5 separate regions of the Homo sapiens genome follow, and regions 1, 3, 4 and 5 are each linked to region 2. The links come from fine-mapping of genetic effects on gene expression. A gene starts in region 2. Each other region holds a variant in brackets. All regions are shown on one strand. Distances are between the middles of the regions. Region 1 overlaps ASF1B (anti-silencing function 1B histone chaperone). Region 2 holds the start of ADGRL1 (adhesion G protein-coupled receptor L1). Region 3 has its middle 45 kb from the start of LINC01842. Region 4 has its middle 23 kb from the start of ADGRL1. Region 5 overlaps ADGRL1 (adhesion G protein-coupled receptor L1).

The links. PIP is the estimated chance that this variant, and not a neighbour inherited with it, causes the effect.
Region 1: its variant is fine-mapped to the expression of ADGRL1 in whole blood (INTERVAL, PIP above 0.99).
Region 3: its variant is fine-mapped to the expression of ADGRL1 in whole blood (TOPMed, PIP above 0.99).
Region 4: its variant is fine-mapped to the expression of ADGRL1 in subcutaneous fat (GTEx, PIP 0.99).
Region 5: its variant is fine-mapped to the expression of ADGRL1 in whole blood (TOPMed, PIP above 0.99). The same link has a PIP of 0.9 or more in T cells and blood mononuclear cells.

What each region holds. Positions count from the first base shown.
Region 1 is chr19:14,122,666-14,127,789 of GRCh38, reverse strand. ASF1B (anti-silencing function 1B histone chaperone) reads left to right here. Exons shown (of 4, transcript NM_018154.3): 2 at 1,553-1,668. Among named protein-coding and RNA genes, the nearest start is that of PRKACA, 7.5 kb to the right of the region's middle. The variant G/A (reference allele first, on the strand shown) is at 2,512.
Region 2 is chr19:14,204,071-14,209,194 of GRCh38, reverse strand. ADGRL1 (adhesion G protein-coupled receptor L1) reads left to right here and starts at 3,026. Exons shown (of 23, transcript NM_014921.5): 1 at 3,026-3,210. RefSeq lists silencers at 2,233-2,332, 2,353-2,412.
Region 3 is chr19:14,285,851-14,290,974 of GRCh38, reverse strand. No RefSeq gene overlaps it. Among named protein-coding and RNA genes, the nearest start is that of LINC01842, 45 kb to the left of the region's middle. The variant G/C (reference allele first, on the strand shown) is at 2,012.
Region 4 is chr19:14,226,675-14,231,798 of GRCh38, reverse strand. No RefSeq gene overlaps it. Among named protein-coding and RNA genes, the nearest start is that of ADGRL1, 23 kb to the right of the region's middle. The variant G/A (reference allele first, on the strand shown) is at 2,688.
Region 5 is chr19:14,165,664-14,170,663 of GRCh38, reverse strand. The region is part of intron 4 of ADGRL1 (adhesion G protein-coupled receptor L1); the gene reads left to right. ADGRL1-AS1 (ADGRL1 antisense RNA 1) reads right to left here. Exons shown (of 3, transcript NR_045214.1): 3 at 1-1,887. Among named protein-coding and RNA genes, the nearest start is that of ADGRL1-AS1, 31 kb to the right of the region's middle. RefSeq lists a silencer at 2,654-2,843 and an enhancer at 2,714-3,213. The variant G/A (reference allele first, on the strand shown) is at 2,735.

The sequences.
Region 1 (5,124 bases), 81 kb after region 2:
TGGCGGGCGCCTATAATCCCAGCTACTCAGGAGGCTGAGGCAGGAGAATCACTTGAACCCGGGAGGCAGAGGTTGCAGTGAGCCGAGATCTCACCATTGCACTCTAGCCTGGACAACAAGAGTGAAACTGTCAAAAAAAAAAAGTGTTTGGAGGATCACCCCGGGATGCCACATTTGTTGACTGAGTTGCCCAAATGTCTCTAAGTAGGCATGACTTGGTGCCAGATCTGGAAGACCAGGGTGGCTGGCTCCCTGAGCAACCTCACCTTCCCCCTCCTGCAGGCTGGCTCTCCTGCCGGATTGGAATCTGCCACCCTGCCCCAGTTGTCGAGGGATCCACTTCGTTGAGTGGCACCGGTCCCTGTGTGTGAAAGAGGATGCTGCTTCCTATCCCAGCACCCAGTGGGCAGGGCCCTGAAATGACCCAACTCCCTGCCGTTCCCTTCTCAGCACGTCTGTGTCACGTGGCTCTTAATTCAGCCTCTGCCATACAGTTCACGCTCAGGCCTTGAGAGGCCCAGGTTTCCCCAGAGGTATAGTCAAGGTCACCTGTCATAGCTAGGCTTACAAGACAGAATTCCCTAATGGAGGTAGAGCTTTGTGCCCACCTCAGCATTCAAGACTGCAGTGCCTGGCACTAAGTGTCTGACAGATGGAATAATAGTCTTTTAACATATTAAGGATCTGTCTAAAATTACCACAAGGCTGGGCACAGCAGCCCACACCTGTGATCCCAACATGGTGGGAGTCCGAGGCAGGAGGATCGCTTGAGCCCAGGAGGTTGAGGCTACAGTGAGCCATGAACATCCCGCTGCACACCAGCCTAGGCAACAGAGGGAGACTGTCTCAAAAAATAAGTAAATAAAAATAAAATAGAAGATGTGGCCGGGCGCAGTGGCTCACACCTGTAATCCCACCAGTTTGGAAGGCTGAGGCGGGCAGATCACTTGAAGTCAGGAGTTGGATACCAGCTTGGCCAACATGGTGAAACCCCATCTCTACTAAAAATACAAAAACAGGCCAGGTACAGTGGCTCACACCTGTCATCCCAGCACTTTGGGAGGCCAAGGCGGGTGGATCACCTGAGGTCAGGAGTTCTAAACCAGCCTGATCAACATGGTGAAACCCTGTCTCTACTAAAAATAAAAAAATTAGCCAGCCATGATGGCAGGTGCCTGTAATTCCAGCTACTCAGTAGGCTGAGACAGGAGAATCGCTTGAACCTGGGAGGCAGAGATTGCAGTGAGCCAAGATCACACCATTGTACTCCAACCTGGGTGACAAGAGTGAAACTCCATCTCAAAAAAGAAAAAAAAAATTAGCTAGGCGTGGCAGCGGGCACCTATAATCCCAGCCACTCGGGAGGCTGAGGTATGAGAATCACTGGAACCTGGGAGGCGGAAGTTGCAGTGAGCTGAGATCGCATCACTGTATTCTAACCTGTGTGACAGAACGAGACTCCATCTCAAAAAAAAAAAAAAATACAAGAGCCTATCCCTGCCTTCTTGCTGTTGAGCTATTTCAATTAGTTAACCCTCCTATATCTTTGCAGACCTGGAGTGGAAGATCATTTATGTTGGCTCGGCTGAGAGTGAGGAATTTGATCAGATCCTAGACTCGGTGCTGGTGGGCCCTGTGCCAGCAGGGAGACACATGTTTGTCTTTCAGGTAAGAAAGATGAGGCCTTAGGCCTTAGCCCTTGATTCCTAGAAACATCCTCTTTTACCTGAAATCCCACAGAGTGCTTCAGGAATCAAAAGTTCAAGTTCAGCTGGGCACGGGCTCACGCCTATAGACCCAGCTACTCCAGGGACTGAGGTGAGAGGATTGCTTGAGCCCGGGAGTCTGAGGCTGCAGTGAGCCACTGCACTCCAGCCTAGGCAACACAGTGAGACCCTGTCTCTAAAAAAGAAAAAAACAAGTATTAAAAACATAGAGGCCGGGCACAGTTGCTCACACCTGTAATCCCAGCACTTTGGGAGGCCGAGGTGGGAGGATTGCTTGAGGCCAGGAGTTTGAGACCAGCTGGGGCAATATAGTGAGACCGCATCTCTACAAAAAATGTAAAAATCAGCAGAGCATGGTGGTGTGCGCCTGTAGTCTCAGATACTTGGGAGGCTGAAATGGGAGGATCACTTGAGCCTGGGAGATGGAAGCTACAATGAGCCAAGACCACACCACTGCACTCCAGCCTGGGCAACAGTAAGACCCAGTCTCAATCAATCAATTAAAACAATTTAAAAGTTCAGGTTCAAATCCTAGTTCTACTGTCAGGAACTATCTGACCTCTCAGAGGCCGTCAGGCCCTCCCTTCCCCCACCTCTGTGTCAAAGCTGCCACTGATTTACAGGCAATTCCCATTATTTACAAGAGTTACGTTCTATAAAGTTGCCGCGAACACTGAATTAGTGAATACTGAACCATTGCCCCAGGGGAAATACAGGGTTAGATTCTTGGAAGTCACATTTTCGTCAGCTGGTTAATACGTAAACTTGTATGTGTGTTTATGTT[G/A]AAAAGACACCAGGACGGCTATGATGGCTCAAACCTGTAATCCCAGCACTTTGGGAGGCTGAGGTGGGTGGATCGCCTGAGGTCAGGAGTTCAAGACCAGCCTGGCCAATGTGATGAAACCCCGTCTCTACTAAAAATACAAAAATCAGCCAGGTGTGGTGGCGCATGCCTGTAATCCCAGCTACTCGGGAGGCTGCGGCGGGAGAATCGCTTGAACCTGGGAGATGGAGATTGCAGTGAGCTGAGATCGCACCAGTGCACTCTAGCCTGGGTGATACAGCGATACTCTGTCTCAGAAAAAAAGGAAAGATACCTTATTTAATATATACAGTGGTTCATTTATGTTGAATTCACAGCCAACAGCACTATAACTCTCCTGAATGAAACTTCTCTAATACGCATATTTTCCATAAAGCCTTTCTTGTATCCTACACTGCACTTCAGCACTACCGTTGGGTGCCATCATAGACAGCAAACTCACCAACAAAAAGCACAAAACATGGAAAAAAGCACTAAGTAGGCTGAGGAAAGGACGCTCATTCACAGTGAGAGCTGAGACCAGAAGACAGAGTGTTGCCTTGTTTGACCTCAGGTGGGAACAGGCGTGGTAGGTAACTCTAGGTGGGAACAGGCATGGTAGGTAACTCCAGTTTTTCCCTGCTCTGTGCATGTCTGCAAGTGACTGTGAAAGCAAGCAGGTGTTCATCTTGGGGTTACAAATAAACTTAGCAGGTAGGTGAACTTGCACATATGGAACCCATGAATAATGAGGATGGACTGTAACTCCTAAATGGCTCTCATGCAGCACCCCACCTGGGTTGTCAAATGTAGATTCTGGCCGGGTGTGGTGGCTTCCAGCACTTTGGGAGGCAGAGGCGGGAGGACTGCTTAAGGCCAGGAGTTCCAGACTAGCCTGGGCCACATAGCGAGACCCCCATCTCTACAAAAAATAGAAAAATTAGCCGGGTGTGGTGGCTTGCACCTGTCGTCCCAGCTACTTGGGAGGCTGAAGCAGGAGGCTTGCTTGAGCCTGAGAGTTTGAGGCTACAGCGAGCTATGATTGCACCTCTGCACTGCATTCTGGGTGACAGCGAGACCTGTCTCTACAAAAAAAACATTAACCAGGCATAGTGATGCAGGCCTGTAGTGCCAGCTACTAGGGAGGCTGAAGCAGAAGACTCACTTGAGGCCAGGTGCCATGGCTCACACCTGTAATCTCAACACTTTGGGAGGCTGGGGCAGGCAGATCACTTGGGGTCAGGAGTTAAAGACTAGCCTGGCCAACATGGTGAAACCCTGTCTCTACTAAAAAATACAAAAATTAGCTGGATGTGGTGGTGCACATTTGTTATCCTAGCTACTCGGGAGGCTGAGGCACGAGAATTATTTGAATCCAGGGGGCGGAAGTTACAGTGAGCTGAGATTGCGCCACTGCACTCGAGCCTGGGCAACAGAGTGAGACCCTGTCTCTAAAAAAAAAAAAAAAAAAAAATAGGCTCGCTTGAGCCCAGGAGTTCCAGGAGTTTACAGTGATCTGTGATTGCACCACTGCACTCCAGTCTGGATGACAGAGGGAAAAGCTATCTCTTTAAAAAAAGAAGGCCGGTGCAGTGGCTCACGCCTGTAATCCCAGCACTTTGGAAGGCCAAGGTGGGCGGATCACAAGGTCAGGAGATTGAGACCATCTTGGCTAACATGGTGAAGCCCCATCTCTACTAAAAAATACAAGAAATTAGCCAGGCCTGGTGGCGGGCACCTGTAGTCTCAGCTACTCAGGAGGCTGAGGCAGGAGAATGGCGTGAACCTGGGAGGCGGAGCTTGCAGTGAGCCGAGATCACGCCACTGCACTCCAGCCTGGGTGACAGTGAGACTCCATCTCAAAAAAAAAAAAAAAAAAAAAGAAGAAAGAAAAAACAAATGGAGATTCTGAGTTCTCCAGGTGATTTTTCAGGATCCTCTGCTCGGATACACTCCCTTACCTCCATCACTGCTGTTACCGCCCTAATCCAAGCTACCACATCCTATCTAACCCCTTCAGCCACCACTACTAAATCCACTGACAGGCCCTATCTACTCAACAGTCAGGACTGGCCTCCTGGGTGTGCAACCCAGGCAGCTGCACAGGACCCCACACTTGGTGCGATACTCTGCTGTCACCGTCTGAAACCTAATAGCTTTTCTGGAGGGGCGTGGTGTTTTCATTTTGCATTGGTTTTATTTTGCACCAATTACGTGGCTGGTCTTGTTTGCAGTAGTACACCCTGAATCTGTTCTTTACTGCCTGGTCTAAGCCAAGTCCACTGCCTCTCCAGGATGACTGGTGTAAGCCTTCTGCTCCACTACAGTCTCCTGTCACGGCTCCACACTTTGCCAGAGGCTTCTTTTCAGATCACAAGAGTGATGTGGCACTTAACCTCCTGCTTACTCTCTTGCCCTTTCCCAATCCCTTAGCTGGCCCCCGGGTGGCCTGATACCACCTGCCTCACCTGTTCAGCTTCATGCCACTGTCCCCCGGCTCACCACACTCCTCCAGAGTACCACGCACCTCTCCCTGCCACAGTCAACGTTTTGTAGTCATTTGTGGGATTGATTCTGTGTTTCCATCAGTTGACA
Region 2 (5,124 bases):
GGCCTGGAGCAGGAGAACAAGGAGGTGACCAGCTTTTCCTGAGCGTCAAGTTCTGTTCCCTTTTCGGTACTGCTGGGTTTATAGAAAGCTGGCTGCCTGGAGTGCCCTCCATCTCAAAGCCTTCATGGGTCTTACTTGGTGCTGTCAATATCTCAAACTGGGAAATTGAGGCGTAGAGAGATGGGATGCCCTCCTCCATACCCAGTGGATCTGCAGTCAACCACAGATGGATGGGATCCGTTTTGCACTCACCAAATCCTACTTTATATTTGGTCCCCCAGATCCCGGTGTCCAACCTGGCCACCCAGATTCAAGGCTGGACAGCTTTGCAGCCATGAAATCCTGGGCATGAAGGAGGAACGAAAGTGACCCATCCCTCCATTTTGAAGTTCTCTGGGGCCAGATTTGCCTAGGTTCTGGCTTTCAAGAATCCCTTCCCCGTCGTGAAGAGACAGCTGTCCGTAGAAGGCGGTGGAGGGTGACAGGCTGCCACAGCAGTGGTGCGTGGTCACCCGGGCAGCCTGGAAGTCTGGTGTCCCTGCACTTCCTCCAGTTTAGCCACAGGGACGTGCTTCTAGGAAGGGATTCTTAGAGGCCAAGTTAATTCCCGTGCAGATATTCAATTCAGGCTTTCTTAGATACTCATTTTTCCCATCCAGATATGCCTCAAGTTTTGTGGATTTACCACTCCTACTCAGGAACCCTTTTCCCTTTCCTCATTCATTCTGCAAAGCGCATGGTTAGCAATGCACTCTCTTCCCTGGACATATAGGGAATGGGGGTTTCCCCCATCCCCATCCTCAGCCCGTCCCCCTCCTCTAAAACTCAGATCAGGGTTTGTCTGCCCTGCTGCTAAGATGCAGCCCAACTTTGAACTCTGAGCTGTCTGCTTTAACATTTGGGCCTCACTTGAATGGATTCCCTTCCCTGAGGATTCCAAGCCCTCCCCAGCCATCAGTCTTCCCATCTTTCATAAAATGGAGCCAGCAGCCCCGCTTCAGGGACTCCCCCCCTCCCCCCTGTTCCCTCCACTCCAGGATTCTTCCCACTTCCATTTCCCTCCAGCCCCCACCCTGCACAAAGTTGCCTGTTCTGCCGAAGTGCCTATTTTTGGCTTGGGGCCCAGTTTTATAGCCCCAGCTATAGGTCTTGGCAGTCATAACTTTCGCTCTCCAGAGAGCCAAGCCGGGTCCAACAGCCTTCCCCACCCCAGAGAGGGGGTGCGGGGGCTCCCTCTGCAGCCTCAACCCGAAACCTGCCCCTCGCCTCACTTGGTCTGATGCCTGGGAACCCAAGCCTGCTTCTTGCCCTACTTCTTAGAGTCCACCAGCTGCAATGGAGTTGTTAGGTGTTGAAAATCCATGCCGGGTTTTTACTCTTTTAGAGAACATAAAATTCAATTTTTCCCCTCGCACCCCCTCCCCAAAAGCAAGACTTTGAGGCGTTTACAGGTACAAACCTCCCCCTAACGCTTCCCTCCGCCCCTGCTGCCCGGTCAGCTCCAAGCCCCTGTCCCGGTGGCCCAGGATCTTCTGCTGAGGGTCTCATCCCGTCCCGCGCTCCAGTCCTGGCTTTGCGTGCCTCCCTCGCCTTTTATTGTAGGTCTGGTCTCCCAGGGTAGCGGCCTCATCGCATTCCCTTCGCAGCGCCCCTGGATCCAGAAACCGCTTTTACCTGTCCGCTCCGGTGCAGCCAGCGCGCCAAATCCCTTCGTACCCGAGTCCAGTCCTCCTTTTGCCCGTCCCCCTTGCACGTCGCTGCCAGGAAGATGAGGGCAGCCCAAGTCGCCTCAGCCACTAAGCATCCCCCTTCCAGAACCCCCCACCATGCGAACCCAGGTCCCGGGAGTTCCGGGCCGGGTCTTGCTTGTTTCCACTGCGTTAGGCCTGACGCATTACTCCGTCTCCCGAGAAAGAATCCGGCCCGAAATTTGCGTGCCCCGGGTGCATTTGGCCATGTCGCATCTACCCCCCAACCCCCCGCTCCAACACCGTTCCTCCCATCTTTATCTAATCCAACTCGGGTTTTGCACAACCCTTCCAGATCTCCCCATTTGCGCCCTCCTTCCCCGGGCTCGGCGCCTTTCCTTATACTTCACTGGAAAATCCGCTCCGGGTCTTCCTTACGCCTGTCTCCCTTCCCCCACTCCCCGCTCCAACGCGGGGCTCCAGCACGTCGCTTTCCCTCTCCCTGCTTTTCCAGGGAGGAGGCGAGAGGAGGCGAAAGGAAGGAAAGTCCAGCCCGGGTTTTCGGGCCGGCTCCTGGGGCGCTCAAGCGGGTTGCGGCGGCCAGTCCCGGGCGGCGACTCCGGGCCGGGTTTTGCGCGCGCCCACCGCCCCCCTCCCGGAGCGGGTGCGCCGGGGAGCGGGGCGAGCAGGCGGCTTGTCATTGCTGGTGCCCGGCGCCGGCTCGGTCCGCGCGTCCTGCGGTGCCCACGGGCCCGGCCCGGCGCCCCCCCTCCGGCCGCACCGGGGGCGCGACGCCGCGGCACCCGCCTCCAGCCGCGCCGCCCCCCTCCGCCAGCTCCGCGCCGCCCGCCCCCAACCCGAGCTCCCCGCGGCCACTGCGGGGAGCCCGAGCCGTCGGCGCGGGAGCTGTCGGCGCTGCGGTGCCCCCGCCCCGCCGTCTGCCGAGGAGGCCCCGGCTGATGGGGCCGCGCGGGCCCCGGAGCGGCGCCGCCGGGCGGCGGGGGCCTGCAGGGGCGCCCCGGCTGCCCCGTTAACCCCTCGTCCACCGCCGGCGTCGGAGGGGGCTGGGAAGTCGCCTGGGCGCACACGTGCCGCCTCCGTCGGGGCCGCGGAGCTGCGGGGGAGATGCGGGCCGCTGCCGGCGCCGCCTCGGGGCGCTCCGCCTCGCCCCAGCCCCCGGCGCTCTGACGCCGCCCCCGCCCCACCGCCTCCCTCCCCGGGAGGGGCGCAGACCCGATCGCCCCCAGTCCCGAGCCTCCGCCGCCGCGAGGGGGCCGCCTTTGGATCCGTGTAATCCGCCTCTTTTTTTTCTTTTCTTTTCTTTTTTTTTTTTTTTCCTAATTTTTGGTCGGCGGCGGTGCTGGGCCAGGGGAAGGAAGGGACACGGAGGCCGCCCTCGTCCCGCCACCTCCTACCCGCTTCCCCCCAGCCCCGGCTCCGGGAGATGTGCCGGGCGGGGGGCCCGGGTTCGCCGAGCCGCAGGAGAGACACGCTGGGCCGACCCCAGAGAGGCGCTGGACAGGTGAGTGTCTGCGGGCCCAGGGCGAGGGGCGAAGCCGCACCTGGGCCAGGTGTGCGGGGCGCGTGGAAGAGGGGAGGCGGGAAGGATGGGAGGCCGGGGCCTGTCCTGGCCGCGAGGGGGGAGGGGACACGGGAGCCGCGCGGGGCACCGCACCTGAGCGGGAGGGGCGTCGGGGGCAGCCCGCACCTCACCCCCACTGGCGAGGGGCCTGGGAGGGGCGGCCCCCACGGAGCGCCCGGGGCGCGGGGGTGCGGACGGGCTACCGCAGGGTGCCTGGCGGGGGGAGGGGACCGCGAGTGTGCCCGCGCGTGGCTGCGTGTGCCCGCGCGCGCGCCAGCCTTTGTGGGGAAGCGGCGCGGCGGTGCCTGCGTGTCCCCGGTGCGTGTGCGCGCGGGTGCTTGGCGCCCTGTTTGTGTAGGTGTCTGGGTGTGAGCGGAGGGGGTGCGTGTGCGCGCCGCGCGCCGGCCCCGCGCCCCAGAGGAGCCGTGTCGGGGGCTGGCACCACAGGATGCTGGGCGAGGGGGTTGTTTTTCTCTGGGAGGCAGTGGCGCGGGGGATGGGGAGGGGTCCGTCTGGGTGTCCAGCCGGCCGCAGTCCGGGGGGCGCCGCTGTCAGGAGGAGGGGGTGCAGCCGGGCAGCACCTTCTCTCCGTGGTGCCGGGTTAAAGCACGGGAGGCCGGCAGGTTTGATCCACTCGGATTATTCGTGCTTTGAGGACAGCTCCCCACCCCCACCCCAGGTGCGCATTGGATTGAGCTGCGAGGGTTTGGTTGTCATCCTCCCATCTGACGGTCCTGGGACCCGAGTCCAGGCCTGAAGTGGTGGGGTGGGGGGATGCTGTGTTTGCTCCAGCCGTGTCCAGAAAATGCCCTCCCAGGTATCTCTCCAGTGCACCCCTGGCCCCCATCTGAAGACAGCCGCTGGCTACACACACCCCTGTCTCTACACTTCCAGTCCGGGTCCTCACACTGCCCCATCCCTGGCCAACACCTCACTGTACCTGCCTGGACCCTTTCTTCCTGTTCCAACCCCCATCCACCCCCAGCCATGCCAGCTGCGTGGGTGTTTCTGTATCCCAGTTCCAGGCAGGGCCCCCCCTTCCGCCTGGCTTCCACCGGACTCAGAGCTGGGGTCTGTCTTCCCACATCCCACTTCCCAACATGTGTGCCTGGGGGCAGGAGGGGGAGGGGTTCAAAATGGCTGCCAAGATGGCTGGCTCGCGCGCTCTCTCTCTCTCTGTCTGTCTCTCTCTCTCTCTCTCTCTCTCTCTCACTCTCTCTGTCTTTCTCTATCTCTCTCTGTCTTTCTCTCTTCCCCTCTCTGCTTGCCCGGCTCCCTTATCCTGGTAGGGAGTCACTGCTTAGAGGAGGTCGGATCCAGTGGGGCACACCTGAGGGTGAATGTCTATTCCGGGCCGTTGACCTCCATGCTGTTTGGGGACAGACCATTGGTTTCTGCTTCTCTCTCCAACACCCCAAGGGCTGGCATGAGTCTAACCTGACCCCAGACCCCACTCCTTCACCCTGGCTCACAGCCTGAAAGCTCCGTGCCCTCCACCTGCTCTCCAGGGCCTGGCCCCCTGAATTGATCAACCCCACGGAGGGTCCACACCCCTCATTCTCTTCTCCTGTCTGCCCCCGGCAGGGGACTCTGCGTGGGTCCCTGTCAGGCCCCAGCTTTGGGGGGCAGGTGACTTCTCCTTCCTCCCTGCTCCCCTCCCACTAATGCCAAATTTATTACTTAAAAGTAGGATGAAAACAGGGAGAATAAGAGAAGGATTACAACCTTCATTATCATATCGAGAAAATTATCCGTGATTTTCCTAACTAGCAATTTGTCTGCCATGCCGTTCAGAACTGACTTGCCCATTAATTACAGAGATGAAAAATCATCTGGAATTCGGAAAAGGGAACT
Region 3 (5,124 bases), 82 kb before region 2:
GGCTGAGGCAGGAGAATTCCTTGAACCTGGGAGGCGGAGGTTGCAGTGAGCCAAGATTGTGCACTGCACTCTAGCCTGGGTGACAGAGCGAGACTCCATCTCAAAAAAAAAAAAAATCCAATTCCAACCTATACAAGGCAGCAGCTGTGAGGTGACACAAGTATGAACCCCATTAAGTCCCCTCAAAAGCCAGAATCTTGGATTTCTTTCACAAGTGAATGACCCCCCCCCAATCTTGAAGGAAAATCATTCTAGCAGCAAATCCTAGACAGGACTTACTATCAGCCAGATATTGCCATCTGCCTTAACTGGTTTAATCCTGACAGTGAACCCCAATGATGTAGAAAATGTTACCACCATTTTTTTTTTTTAAATACGGAGTCTCGCTCTGTCCCCCAGGCTGGAGTGCAGTAGTGCAATCTCGGCTCACTGCAACCTCTGACTCCTGGGTTCAAGTGATTCTACTGCTTCAGCCTCCCAAGTAGCTGGGATTACAGGGGCACACCACCACACCTGGCTAATTTTTATATTTTTAGTAGAGATTTTTATATATTTGCCATGTTGGCCAGGCTGGTCTCGAAGTCCTGACCTCAGGTGATCTGCCTGCCGCAGCCTCCCAAAGTGCTGGGATTACAGGCATGAGCCACCATGCCCGGCTGTTATCACCATTTTACAGGTGGTGAAACCAAGACACAGAACAATGCAGTGGCTCCCACGTGTGGATAAGAAGTAGCTTGTGGATTTGAACCCAGGACACCTTGTCTGTGCATTGAGCCAGGCCGATCTGCACCCAGGCACCTGCCCAGGTAGATGCAGGGCCTGTGAGATTCTTCCAAGGCCTCCCATTTTGATGGGGTCCCCAGGCCTCCAGGCCTGCACTGGAGCTGGTCTGCTTCCAGGTGGAGCCAATGGAGGGTCCTGGTGCGGGGGAGTCGGCGTTGGCGGGTGATTGATGGTTTAATATCTCGCGCTGCGACCCGGGCCCCTCCTCGCCCACGCCTCTGCGGGCGGCCCCCAGTGAGAGGTGGAGATGGGATAATTCGGTTACCAAAAAGAGAATGAAAATTCCAGAGAGAGAAAGAGACAGAGAAAGAGGTGCAGACCAGGGAGTGAGCTGGGAGCTGATTTGGCAGGGCTGGGCTTGGATGGGAGGGAGGAGGCCGACTCTCAAATCCGGAATCCCTCTGGGGGCCTGGGGACTCACAGGTCCCAGCCGTCTTCAACTCCCATCTGACTTCCTGTCTTGAGAACAGAGACAGCAGATATGACAAGTGAGAGGTCACAGGCAGGGGCAAGGCCTCAGAGGAGAGGGAAGCATGTGGCCTCCGCCTGGGACAACTGCTGGCAGGTGAGGCCAAGGGGAGGTAGGGACTAGTGGAGTTGGGGTGGAGGGAACAGGAGACTCCAAGTTCCCAGCTCAGAGGCTTCTGGTCATCCTTGACTCGAGTCCTCTCTCTCTTTTTTTTTTTTTTTTAGATGGAGTCTTACTCTGTCTTCCAGGCTGGAGTGCAATGGCATAGTCTAGGCTCACTGCAACCTCCGCCTCCCGGGTTCGAGCAAGTCTGCTGTCTCAGCCTCCTGAGTAGCTGGGACTACAGGCGTGCAGCACCACACCTGGCTATTTTTTGTATTTTTGGTACAGACGGTGTTTCACTGTGTTGGCCAGGCTGGTCTCGAACTCCTGACCTCAAGTGATTCTCCCACCTTGGCCTCCCAAAGTGCTGGGATTACAGGCGTGAGCCACCGTGCCCCGCTGGAGTCCTCTCTTTTTTTCTCTTTCCATCCACGTTCAAACCTCGGACTTCATTTCTTCCCCACCTCCCCGGCCCTCACTTGGTCCAGCCCAGCATCCCTCACCTGGTCCAGCCCAGCATCCCTCACCTGGACTGTGCAGTTCCCTCTACCCTTGCTCAGGTCTCCAGCCTGGCCCTGAAGCCTGTTCCCTCCGCAGCCTCCAGAGGGCGCGAGCGAACACCTGATCAGGCCACGCCCCCTCCTCCCGCTCAGAACC[G/C]GGAAAGCTCCCACCTTGTGTTAATTTCCCATGGTTGCCGTCACTAGCTAGCATTTATTTAACGACGCAAATTATCCTACAGCTCTAGAGGTCAGAGATGTGGTTCAGGGTCTCACCTGCCTAAGACCAAGATGTCAGCAGGCTGCAGTCCTTTCTTGGAGGTTTTAGGGGATGATCTATTTTTTGCTCATTTAGGGGTGCAAGATTCAGTTCCCTGGGGTTGTAGAACTGAGGCCCTGTTTTCTTGCTGGTTGTCCATTCCCCGTTTCTAGAAGTTGCCTGCATTCCTTGGCTCGTGGGCCCTCCCTCCATTTTCAAAGCCAGCAATGACGAGTCAAGTCCTTCTCATATGACAGCCTTCAACTCCCCTCTGCCGCCCCCTTGCATTTTAAGGACTTGTGTGATTAGATGATCCAAGGTCATTTCCCTGTCTGAAGATCCTTAATTACCTAATCAGCAAAGTCCCTTTTGTTGCATGAGGTAGCAATTCACTAACCCTGCTTCTCAGGGCCTGGCTGTGTCCAAAGGAGTCTTTCTCCTTTAGACACTTTTAAGTGTCTGACCTGTCTTCTGCCTCTCCCTGGGCACCTGCTCCCTGCTCAGCCTGCCTCTCCCGCAATTCAAGCCAGTCATATGCTTGACACTCCTCCAGGAAGCCTCCCTGAAGTACCCATGTTTATCAACCCGCTGGAGCAGTTACCAGCCCCTTTCTCCTATCCTCCCCAGGCCATGAGATCTTGAAAGTTTAGGATGAGGAAGTAGATACCTTGGGAAGGAGGGCATTATTCTCCTTACCAACTGCCTCACTCAGAGCAAAACTCCAGTCCTCACGGAGGCCAGAAAACCCAGCTTTCTCCAAGCAGATGGGCCTCCTTACTGTTCTCCAAACTCACCAAAGACATCCTGCCTCAGGGCCTTTGCACAGGCTGTTCCCTCTGCCTGAGTCATCCTCCCCAGATATCCACATGGCTCCTCCCTCACCTCCTCCAGGTCTCCCTTCACTTGTGCCCCTCCCCAGGGAAGCCTTCTCTGATGCACACACACCCAATTTACAACATCCACAGACTCTTATTGCTTTTTTTTTTTTTTTTTTTTTGAGACGGGGTCTCGCGCTGTTGCTCAGGCTGGAGTGCAATGGCGTGCTCTCAGCTCACTGCAACCTCCACCTCCGAGTGCAAGTGATTCTCCTGCCTCAGCCTACCGAGTAGCTGGGATTACAGGCATGCTCCATGACACCTGGCTAATTTTTGTATTTTTAGTAGAGACAGGGTTTTGCCATGCTGACCAGGCTGGTTTTGAACTCCTAGCCTCAAGTGATCCGCCCGCCTCGGCCTACCAAAGTGCTGGGATTACAGGCCTGAGGCTGCTGTATTTTCTCCATTGCACTGGCTGCTTTTGGCTACAACACAGAATATTCATTCCTTGTTCATCTTGTCATCGCCCAGGTCTCCCACTGGAAAGTCAGCTCCAAAAGGGAAGTTCCTCCACACTGTTCCCTCCTGGCTCTGTATGCCGCCCCCTTCCCTGGCCCTTGGCATACAGCAGGTGCTCAATAAGTGTTAGGGCTGGGCGCAGTGGCTCACACCTGTAACTACCAGCACTTTGAGAGGCCAAGCGGACAGATTTGAGCCCAGGAGTTCAAGACCAGCCTGGCCAACATGGCAAAACCCCGTCTTTACTAAAAATACAAAAATTATCCAGGTGTGGTGATGCATGCCTGTAATCCCAACTATTCGAGAGGCTGAGAAATGAGAATTGCTTAAACCTGGGAGGCAGAGGCTGCAGTGAGCAGTGATCGTGCCACTGCACTCCAGCATGGGCGACAGAGCGAGACTGTGTCTCAAAAAATAATAATAATAAGTGTTTGTTGAGTGAATGGATGGCAGGCAGGCAGGGCCCCAGCCCAGAGGAGGATGGGGACCCAGTGGAAGGTGGGAGCGGCAGGTGGAGAGGGATTGGTGTGGAGATGGTAGAGAAAAAGACCTTCTAGAACAATCCTGGGGGTCAGGTGGTCCCTGTGATGAAATGAACCAGCATTGTGTGAATTCCGGTCAAGGGCTGATCTGTCATGATCTCTATAACATGCTTTTCACAGGGAAATGTGTCCCCCCTGCCCCGCAATCCCCTTGATAAAATCTTAGCCTTATGACTTTGTTCTCTGTTCATCTCAGATAACAGATGTTCCTGGAGTCGCCTTAGTCACAGGGCAGCTTGGCTTCAATTCAAAACAAGGAATGTCCAGACCCAAGCTGGGGCCTTGATTTAGACTTCAATCCTATTTCCTTCTACCTCTCCTCCATCCCCACCAGCGTCATGTTCTGGGGGTCTGGGTGGTGCTAGGGCCCCTTCCTTCTTGCTTTCCTCTCCTTTCCTTTCACGGCCAGGGCTGCAGCTCCAGGAGGGAATATAGTGTGTCAAATGGTGGCCCCCCAAAAGGATGTGTCCACACTCTGGCCCCTGCAACCTGTGAATGTGATGTTTTTATATTATTATTATTTTTTTTTTTTTGAGATGAAGTCTTGCTCTTGTCTCCCAACTGGAGTGCAGTGGCGCAATCAAGGCTCGCTGCAACTTCCGCCTCCCGGGTTCAAGCGATTCTCCTGCCTCAGCCTCCTGAGTAGCTGGGATTACAGGCGCCTGCCACCACGTCCGCCTAATTTTTGTATTTTTAGGAGAGACGGGCTTTCCCCATGTTGGCCAGGCTGGTCTCAAACTCCTGATCTCAGATGATCTGCCTGCCTCGGCCTCCCAAAGTGCTGGGATTACAGGCATGAGCCACCACGCCTGGCCAACTTATTTTTTTTTTAAAGACATGGTCTTGCTCTGTCACTCAGGGTGGCCAGAGAGCAATGGCATGATTTTGGCTCACTGCAGCCTCGACTTCCCAGGCTCAAGTGATCTTCCCACCTCAGCCTTCCAAGTAGCTGGGACCACAGGCACGCAACACCGTGCCTGGCTAATTTTTGTATTTTTTTGCAGAGAGAGATTCTTGCTATGTTTCCCGGGCTGGTCTCAAGGTCCTGGCCTTGAGCAATCCTCCCACCTCGGACTCCCAAAGTGCTGGGATTACAGGCACGAGCCACTGCGCCTGGCCTGAATGTGATCTTAGGTGG
Region 4 (5,124 bases), 23 kb before region 2:
TCCCAAAGTGCTGGGATTACAGGCGTGAGCCACCGCACCCGGCCAGGACACTTATTAATAGATTTAGAGCCCATTCTAATTCAGGATGATCTCATGTCAGGATTCTTCACATAAATACAACTTCAAAGACCCTTTGTCCAAATAAGATCACACGTACAGGCTCTGGGGGTTAGGATATGAATGTACATTTTTGGAGGACTGTCATTCAACCAACTGTAGGGAGTAAACGGATGGGGCTGGGGTGGGGAGATGACTTGGCAAGCCAAGTGCTTTGGTGTGAATGTTTGTGTCCCCCCAAATTTATATGTTGAAATCTTTTTTATCTTTTTTTTTTTTTTTTTTTGAGATGGAGTCTCATCACCCTGTTGCTCAGGCTGGAGTGCAGTGGCGCAATCTCGGCTCACTGCAAACTCCACCTCCTGAGTTCCAGTGATTCTCCAGCTTCAGCCTCCGGAGTAGCTGGGATTACAGGCGCCCACCACCATACCTGGCTGATTTTTGCATTTTTAGTAGGGATGGGGTTTTTGGTATGTTGCCCAGGCTGGTCTTAAACTCCTGAGCTCAAAGCAATCTGCTCACTTTGGCCTCCTAAAGTGCTGGGATTACAGGTGTGCACCACCATGCCTGGCCAATATATGTTGAAATCTTAACCCCCCAGGTCGTGGTGTTAAGAATTGGGGCCTATGGGAGATGAGGAGGGTGGAGACCTCGTGAATGGGACCTGTGCCTTCACACAAGAGGCTGGAGAGAGACCTCATGCCCTGTGAGATGAGAGGGCGAGAACGCTAACATCTTTGTCTATAAAAAGAGCCTGGCTGGGTGTGGTGGCTCATGCCTGTAATCCCAGCACTTTGGGAGGCCAAGGCAGGCAGATCACCTGAGGCCAGGAGTTTGAGACCAGCAAGTTCACCCATAGTGAAACCCTGTCTCTACTAAAAATACAAAAATTAACTGGCATGGTGGTGCATGCCTGTAATCCTATCTACTAGGGAGGTTGAGGCGGGAGAATCACTTGAACCCTGGAGGCGGAGGCTGCAGTAAGCCGAGATCACGCCACTGCACTCCAGCCTGGGCAACAGAGTGAGACCCTGTCTCAAAAAAAAAAAAAAAAAAGAAAAAAAAAAGTCTCAATGCCGGAGGAATGGAAGACTCTGCTCAGGAACAAGACAAAAGTCCTCAAGTCTCTGGCCACTCCCCACGCCATTCCCCAGGACCCCAGCATCCCCCGCCCCCACTATCCTTGGCTCCATGACTGTTCTCCCAGGTCAGAGCCCACATCACACTCTTTCAACCTCCAGAAGTTTGCCCAGGAAGTCTCTCCACCTGACTGGCCTTCCCTCCCACAACTCCCTCTGTCTGCCTATCCTTAAAGTAGCAGCCAGGGTGACCCTTCTGAAGGGGGTTTGGGTTATGCCAAGATCTCTTCTTCCCTCCCCTCCCCTCCCCTCCCCTTCCCTTTCCTTCCTTTCTCTTCTGACAGAGTCTCACTCTGTCCCTCAGGCTGAAATGCAGTGGCACAATCTCGGCTCACTCCAACCCCCGCCTCCCAGGTTCAAGGAATTCTCCTGCCTCCTCCTGAGTAGGTGGGATTACAGGCATGAGCCACCACCCCTGGCTAATTTTTGTATTTTTAGTAGAGACGGGGTTTCACCATGTTGGCCAGTTTGGTCTCGAACTCCTGGCCTCAAGTGATCCACCCACTTCGGCCACCCAAAGTTCTGGGATTACAGGCATGAACCACCATGCCCAGCCTTCTTTTCTTTTTGAGATGGGATCTTTTTCTGTGGCCCAGGCTGGAGTACAATGGCATGATCATAGCTCACTGCAGCCTCAAATTCTTAGGTCCAAGTGATCCTCTTGCCTCAGCCTCCCAAGTAGCTGGGACTAGAAGGCATGTGCCACCACGCCCAGCTAATTTTTAAATTTTTTTTTAGAGTTGGTGGTCTTGCTATGTTGTCCAGGCTGGTCCCAAACTCCTGGCCTCAAGCGATCCTCCTGCCTCAGCCTCCCAAAGTGCTGGGATTGTAGCTGTGAGCCACCATGCTCAGCCCAGCCCTGCCAAGATCCGTTTTCCATTCCCGTGGCACTCAACAGTCTCCTCAGAGCAGTTTCCACAATTGTAATTACCTAGTTTGGCAGAGTGATGTCTTAATGTTGCTCTCTCTGCTTCTAGAATGTGAGCCCCCAGAGAGGTCAGGGCCTGGGAGATTTATTCATTTACATATCCCACGCACCTAGTCAGGCATAGCACACAGTTAGTGCTTAATATATGTGCCCAGGAGGTTTGCAAATGAATCCCTTTCGGCCAGGCACGGCGGCTCACGCCTGTAATCCCAGCACTTTGGGAGGCCAAGGTGAGTAGATCACTTGAGGTCAGGAGTTCAAGATCAGCCCGGCCAATATGGCGAAACTCTGTCTCTACTTAAAATACAAAACTTAGCCAGGCATGCTGGCGGGCGCCTGTAATCCCAGCTACTCAGGAGGTTGAGGCAGAAGAATCGCTTGAACCAGGGAGGTGGAGATTGCAGTGAGCCGGGATTGCACCACTGCACTCCAGCCTGGGCAATAGAGCAAGACTCAGTCTCAAAAAAAAAAAAAAAAAAAAAAAAAAAAAGGAATCCCTTTTGTCCAGGCAAGTGGGATGCACTGGTTCTCTGACCAGCAATTCCCCAATTCCCCAACTGGAC[G/A]GGTCACTTGGTGTCCCAGTGGAATATTCGGGAATCTTCTCTAAGGCAACAGGACACACACACACACACACACACACGCACAATCACACACACACACACAAAATGAACCCCCCCTCCTCAATTTCTTTACCAACTATTTTTCCCCCCAGGCAGAAAATGAACCATTATTAAAACAACACGGCAACCGGCCGGGAAAACCCATTTACAGCGATTTATATCGCTTCGCTGCGGCTGCCGAGAGGAAATGGGAGGAGAAGCTCGAGGTTTAAGCACTGGGTGAAAAATCACATTCCATCAGAGGAAGAACAGATGGGTGTTTTTTTCCTCCCCTTTCTCCCCCTTGCTTGGGCTCGGAGTCAGGAATCTATGTCAGCCGTGGGTTTGTTCTTGGTGTGATAGGGTGATTCTGGGGAGACAGAGGCCCAGCCAGGCTGCTGGGTCCCAGGGAGCAAGCGGTGGCTTGTGAGCCACTGAGGACCCCCGCTCCCCATCCTCCATCCTCCTGCCCACCCGCTCTGTCTCCTGGGCCTGTAGGCTGCCGATCTGAGCCCCATCCCCCATCCTGCTATTTTAATTTTTACATTTTCTCATCACCCCCTGGAATTACCGTCTCTCCTTATTTCCTTCCTCCTTCACAGTCTTTTTCCTTGAAGGCAGGGCCATGTCTGTCCTGTTCGTCGTTGCATCCTTAGTGCATTGAACACATAGCAGTGGCTCCCATATCTGCAGACAACCACTAACCCTCTGCCACGGTCCCACCATCACGGCTGCCATCCTATCCTAACCTTACTAAGGACACCTTCCCCCTCTCCCCGGCGGCTGTGAGCGCGCTGGAAGACGGGGGCTGTTTAGTTTGTTTCCTTCATGGATGGATCTACTGTCCCTCCACCCCCAAAGAAAGCCTGATTCACAGCTTTCTGGGTGTTGGGATTGGGGGATGGGGACAGACAGGCATGACTGAGTCATTCAGCTGTTTAAAAGCTATCACTGACTTCTTCAAAATTGAAAAATGTTATCGTGGCTCCAAAGGTCCTTTCCAACCTAGACCCAAAACACCTGTTCAGTTTAAACCACGCCCCCTCCACCGCGCCAGCCCCGACAAACATGCTGGCACCCGCCTAGGCACCACCTAGTCAAACCCCCTGGCCCATGTGGTCCCCAACTCACCCATGATGCTTTGCATCGCCTTCACTAAATGCCCCGCCCCTCCCTCTGTGTCCGCCCCAGAGCTGAATCCAGCCCACAGATGTAATTGGCTTGGTCCATGCAGGCTTTAAAAACATTTTGTAATGACTTGCTAGCTTTTATTTATTTATTTATTTATTTATTTATTTATTTATTTATTTATTTATTTTTGAGATGGAGTCCCACTCTGTCACCCAGGCTGGAGTGCAGTGGCGCGATCTTGGCTCACTGCAAGCTCTGCCTTGCGGGTTCACGCCATTCTCCTGCCTCAGCCTCCCGAGTAGCTGGGACTACAGGCGCCCCCCACCACGCCCGGCTAATTTTTTGTATTTTTAGTAGAGACGGGGTTTCACCGTGTTAGCCAGGATGGTCTCGATCTTCTGACCTTGTGATCTGCCCACCTCGGCCTCCCAAAGTGCTGGGATTACAGGCGTGAGCCACCGCGCCCGGCCCATGACTTGCTAGCTTTTAAATACAGGCTGCTTTTTCATTGTTGTTGTTGTTGTTTTTGTTTTTGAGATGGCGTCTCGCTGTGTCGCCCAGGCTGTAGTGCAGTGGTGTGATCTCTGCTCACTGCAACCTCTGCCTCCTAGGTTCAAGCGATTCTCCTGCCTCAGCCTCCCAAGTAGCTGGGATTACAGGCAAAGGCCACCAGGCCCAGCTAGTTTTTTTCTATTTTTAGTAGAGGCAGGGTTTCACCATGTTGGTCAGGCGGCCTTGAGCTCTTGAACTCAAGTGATTCGCCCCCCTCAGCCTCCCAAAGTGCTGGGATTACAGGCCTGAGCCACCAGTGCCAGACCTCAGGTGATTTTTGCATAAAAATCTGGATGCCTGACTTCCTCTAAAGATGAAATCTTGTCTGGGCGTGGTGGCTCATGCCTGTAATCCCAGCACTTTGGGAGGCCTAGATGGGCAGATCACCTGAGGTCAGGAGTTCGAGACCAGCCTGGCCAACATGGCAAAACCTTGTCTCTACTAAAAATGCAAAAATTAGCCAGGTGTGGTGGCACGTGCTTGTAATCCCAGCTACTCGGGAAGCTGAGGCAGGAGAATTGCTTGAACCTGGGAGACGGAGGTTGCAGTGAACCGAGATTGTGCCACTGCACTCCAACCTGGGTGACACAGCAAGACTTGTCTCAAAAAAAAAAAAAAAACACAACTGAATTAAATGAGTTCATGCTATATAAGGAACGGGCTTAGCAAGTGCTGATAAATGTTACTCATTCTTATCATTATTTGCCATAGTCCCACC
Region 5 (5,000 bases), 38 kb after region 2:
TGTGCGGATGCGGGCCCTTCTCGCATGAGTGAGTGAGGAGGAGACACCTTGACCCATCACACATGTGCACACATGCATGGGGCCTGGGCACAGTGGGGACAGCCGGGCCTGCTCTCTCCAACACACATTCTCTAATCCCAGACACCAGTGTCCACACTCAGTGCCTGCTCCCCCGCCTCACAGACTCTGTCCCCTCCTGTGGGGACACCTTCTCCAGCTCTCCTTACCCCAGCCCACTCACCCTGCTTCTTCATGCACCCTATACTCATTTCCACACTGCCAGGCCATGGTCCCGTGCTCTGCCTGGCACACTTACGTCTCTCTCTTCTCCCTTGGCCTCTATGCTTTTCTCCCCCATCTGCCTCCCTCGCCTTCTCACATCCCTTCCTTTTCTGACTCTTCTGACCTTTTCTGACCCTTCTCATCTACCTTCTCTTCCCTCTCACTTACCCCACTGCCCCTCTCAACACCGTTCTCTCAGCACCCTCACTCCCCACACACTTCTTCCCAATCATGGAAGCTGGACTCTACACCCATAGAGTGGGATACCATCCTCTGAGGCCTGGTGGCAGATTCAGGGTGAAGGGCTGGGGGGCATTTTCAACAGATTCATAGCTCCTCACTGGTCTCCCCATTACCATGTGGCACTTCCTGTCTGCAAAGGAAATGCCGCCATGTTGGACTGAGGGTGGCCTCCAGGCAGCCTGAAGAAAGTGATTTGGGGAGCCAGGAGCCTGGCCATCTTGCACCTGGCCAAAGGGATCAGACAAAGACAAGGTCTCTCCTCCTCAGCACCCCACCCTTGACATCACCTTTTTCCTGCCCTCTCTCCTCCCTCCCTCCTTCCCATTATCCCTTCCCTTCTCCTCCCACAATGGGTTCCATGTAGTCAACCTGGTGGTAGGGCCTCCGGGAAGAGTGGGGAGAAGGCAGGGCCATCAGGGTGTCTGAGTGTGGCGGGCCGGGTTTGGGGACTAAGAGGCCCTGTAACTCTCCCTCCTCTCCCCTCCCACCCCAACCTTCCCTGCCAGCCTTTGATTTCTCCTCACAGGTGACTCGATGCTGGGGAAACAGGATCCCTTCTGTGCTTCCGTAATTTTCTTCTTTTACTCTTCGTCCTTTCCTTTCAGCGCTTGAGGCCTTCAGCCACCACCGAGGGGGATGCCCATCTGCTCCTTGAAGCCTCCCCACAGCACTGGGGACACGGCTGACTCCCGCGGCTGGGACAGCGGGGAAGGGGGGTGGGAGGCAGCGAGCTCAGCACAGGGGGGCAGTCAGATGGGTGTAGGTTCAAGGCTCGACTGGGCTCTTGAGTTTTCTGGCTCTGAAACCTTGAGCAAATGATTTAATTTCTCTGGGCCACTACGGAAGGAGGTGTGAGTCCATGAGATGACATGTGAGAAGCGCTTGGCCCAGGGCCGGCCACAAAGTCGCTCCTGGTGGCAGGGTTTTGAGTGCCGAGTGTAAACTTCCCAAGGGCAGAGGCTTCGTCTTCACCCGCCGCCCCAGCGCCCAGACCCATGCCTGGTTCAGGATGTGCTCAGTAATATTACCAATGCCCTTTAAGCCAGCTGAGCCTGTTTATTCATCTGTGATGGGGTGGAGAGGGGTCAAAAGCCTTCCCTGGGAAGCCACAAGGAGTAGCGACAACGCATGTCAAGCTTGTGTGCACCCGAGCTGTAGATGCAAAGGAAATGGTGCCTGCTTTCGCCAGCCATGTGGCCTCACTTCAGTGTGCCTCAGTTTTCCCATCTGTAGACAGGGTTCTCAAAAGACGGCCAGTGAGGTGCGTAGCATAGTTGCTGGCCCCTCGTGAGTGCTGGACACTTGGTAGTCGTTGCTTTTGTTGCAGCTCCTTGTAATGCCTCTTGTCAATTACGATTATTGCTGTGGTAATCAAAATTAAAATAACAACGGATAATGACCCAACTTCTCCCGAGGCAGGTGAGATAAAGGGCAGGAAAAATTCCTCGGTCCAGGTGGAAGCCAAAGCAAGTAGACGAGAGGCTCAGGTCAAGCCGCAGGAAAGAAGCTAGGGGAGGAGAGGAGCTGAGAAACCTCCTGGAGCCGAGGCCCTGAGCGTGGTCCAGGGGCTACAACCGACAGAGACCAGGCAGGCTCCAGGGACAGAGGGCAGGACAGTTCAGAGGATGAGTGGCTGCCTGTCTGATGGAAGAGAGATAGCCTGAGCCCTTGGGGAGACAGGAGACACACGCACACACACACACGCGCAGACATGTGTGCACACATACGGGGTGGATGTTGGGGGCAGAGCTAACTCCTGATGCTCCAGAGGAAGGAGGCTGGAGTTAAAGCGGGGACAGGAGGTAGCTAGAGGACAGGGAGGCCAGGCACTCACTTGTCCCCAAAATGTTCACTGAGCATCTCCTGAGTGCCAGGCCCTGGGTGAGGCGCTGGGAAGGGAGGCAGAGGCTGCCCCTGCGGAGCTCCCTGCTGGAACCTTCAGAGAGGGGCCAGGAGAGCCAGTCCCTCCAGTCAGAAGTTCCTGAGGGGCCAGGGATGCAGAGGGGGAGCGGCCTGGGCAGCCACCTGGCCCAGGGCTTCAGAGGCTGGGGGTGACCCCAGTGCTGGTGAGGGTGGGTCAGGGGTGGGTGGCAGGGGGCACGTGATGTGTGGGAACCCTCCCACACAGTGGACAAGCCCGACTAATGCTGGATTTGCTTTGCAGCTGAGCACAGTCTAACCGCGCCCCTTCCTCCCCTAGGTGCCGCCC[G/A]TCCGCAGGGCAGCGGGCAGGGCGGAGCTCCCAGCTCCTGGGCCCCCGGGCCCTGGGTGGGTTGAGCAGAGAAGCCGAGCCTCAGACTTGCCCCTGGGGAGCCTGGGAGCGTGTCTGTGCCCCCACTTGCTGTCCCACCCAGTCTGTGTCCCCCACCCCCGCCACCTCTCTGCCTCCGTCTCCCCAACCCTGGCTCTCTCTGGGGCCCGGGTGCAACTGCCCGTCTGCCTGTCGTTCTGTGTCTGGCTCTGCCACCTTCTCTCTGTGTTTGCTTCTTCTGGGTTGTGAGGGCTTGGGGGAAGTCAGCTGGACCTGGGTGAGGCCAGCATAAAGGGGAAGGAGTTCAGCCTGTTTCTTGGCTGAGGGTGGGCCCAGGCCCTGGGAGACACTGAAATCCTTCCCCTGGGGCCCCTGGTTCTAGCAGGAGGGCAGCAGGCAGGGTGGGAAGGGAGCCGAGTGGCTTATCCACCCCACCACTCCCTGGTGCCCCCTCTGACCGGAGCCCACCTCCCAGCTGGGGCTCCCTACTCCCTGCCCCCGCCTTGCACCAAGGGTGCCCCCTCCCACCTGAGGGCTCTGTCTGCCTGCCTGTACCCCCCTACCACCCCTGTGTCTTTCTGTGTCTTCTCCCTCCTGTGTGTGTCCCCCTCGTCCCTCTGACTGTCTCCCCAGCACCCTCTCACCCCACCTGACCACCCCCAGAGGAAGGGACCTGGGGGCGGGGGCCCGAGCTGATGCTACGGAAGGGGTTGGGGAAGCAGGAGCGAGGAAGGAAAGGAAAAGGGGGCGTGTTGCCAGAAAAGAAACGAAAGCAATTTAATCTCTTTTTTTTTCTCTTTTTTTCTTGCACATTTTTTTTTTCAATTTGTTTTCTCTCTCTCTTCCGATGCTTAAAGTAGAAGTGGAGCAGAAAGGTAAACGCACTGTTACCAATGCTAACCCCTAACTCACACTTTGTTCTACCTGTACCATACTTATGTGACCTGCCCTCCCCCGGCCCCTTCTTCTCTCCCCAACCCACACTTGGTCCGGTCGGTATCCCCCACCCTGGGTTGTCCTCCCAGTGGGACCAGCCCTGGTGCGGCCACGGGCATCTCCACCCTCCAGATACCCACGGAAGCTCCTCTCTGAGCTTGGGCAGGATTTTCTCTCTCTCGCTGTTTCTGTCTCTCTCTGTCCCTCCTTCCTGGTCCCTGGCCCTTTCGGGGGACCTGGCCTTTTCTCATACTTCTTTTGCCTCCTTCAGGAGAAGTGTATAAGCATCCAGGGCGGGTGGGGAGGGAGGGACTCCCTTCCCCGGCTCCCCCACTGGGGCACCGGGTGAGCTGTCTCTCTCTCTCTCTCTCTTTCTCTCTCTCTCTCTCTCTGTCTCTCCCCTCTCTCTTCCTCCTTCCCCTGTACCTTTTATAACATGTTTCTGGTTCATGGGAGGCGGGCTGGAGGGGACACCATTGTTTTCCTTTTGGGGAGCAGATTCTCCTATGTCTCGGGCTCCTGGTGGCTTAAGTTCCTTCTGGTTTGATGTTTCCAAGGCCCAGAGCTGTTTTGGAGCATGGAGCACCAGTCCTCCCCACCCCCAACCTGATCCCCATCTCTGACCAGCTGGGGGCCCAGCCCTGGGGAGGGGTGTCAGCTGTCCCCAGCCCTGGGAGGGGGCAGCCTGCCAAAAAATGAAAAAATGAGGGCGAGGGGGCGGGGGCGGGCCTCGTGGTTGGGGGAGCGAAGGGTGGGGGAGCGTGTTCTCTGTTTCTTTCACACTTGCAAAGCTGCAGTCAGGGTTTCTTCTGGGCTGTTGTGGTTAGAGGACCAGGGAGATGGGCGGCGGGCGGCGGGGGCACAGTCTGGGGACTTCCACAGACTCCGTAATTTCTAGCAGAGAACTCCCTAGTGGATGGGGCTGGCCATTACTGGCTGTTATTGGGGGGAGCGGAGGTGCTGCTGCTGAGGGGCTTCTAGGGTGAGATGTTAGGGATGACCATTTCCTCTCCAGAAAGTTTTGGGAAATTTACCCATCTGAGGCCGGCAGCAGCAGGCAGGGCTGGAGGACATGGCCTTTAGGGATCCCTTTTGCCTTGAAATTACAGTGGTCTGTGGAGCATCCCTTCCGAAGGAGGTGGGGCAGGGTCCCTCTGAGCTGCTCCCCTCCCCGTCTTCCCCTCTCCCCCATCTCAGAGAGGCCTGGGCTGCTGGCCCCAGGTCCGCCCCCTCACCACACCCCTCCAGTCTCCTCTCTTTCTCCTGGAGTCTCTCTCCCTCCCAGCACCAG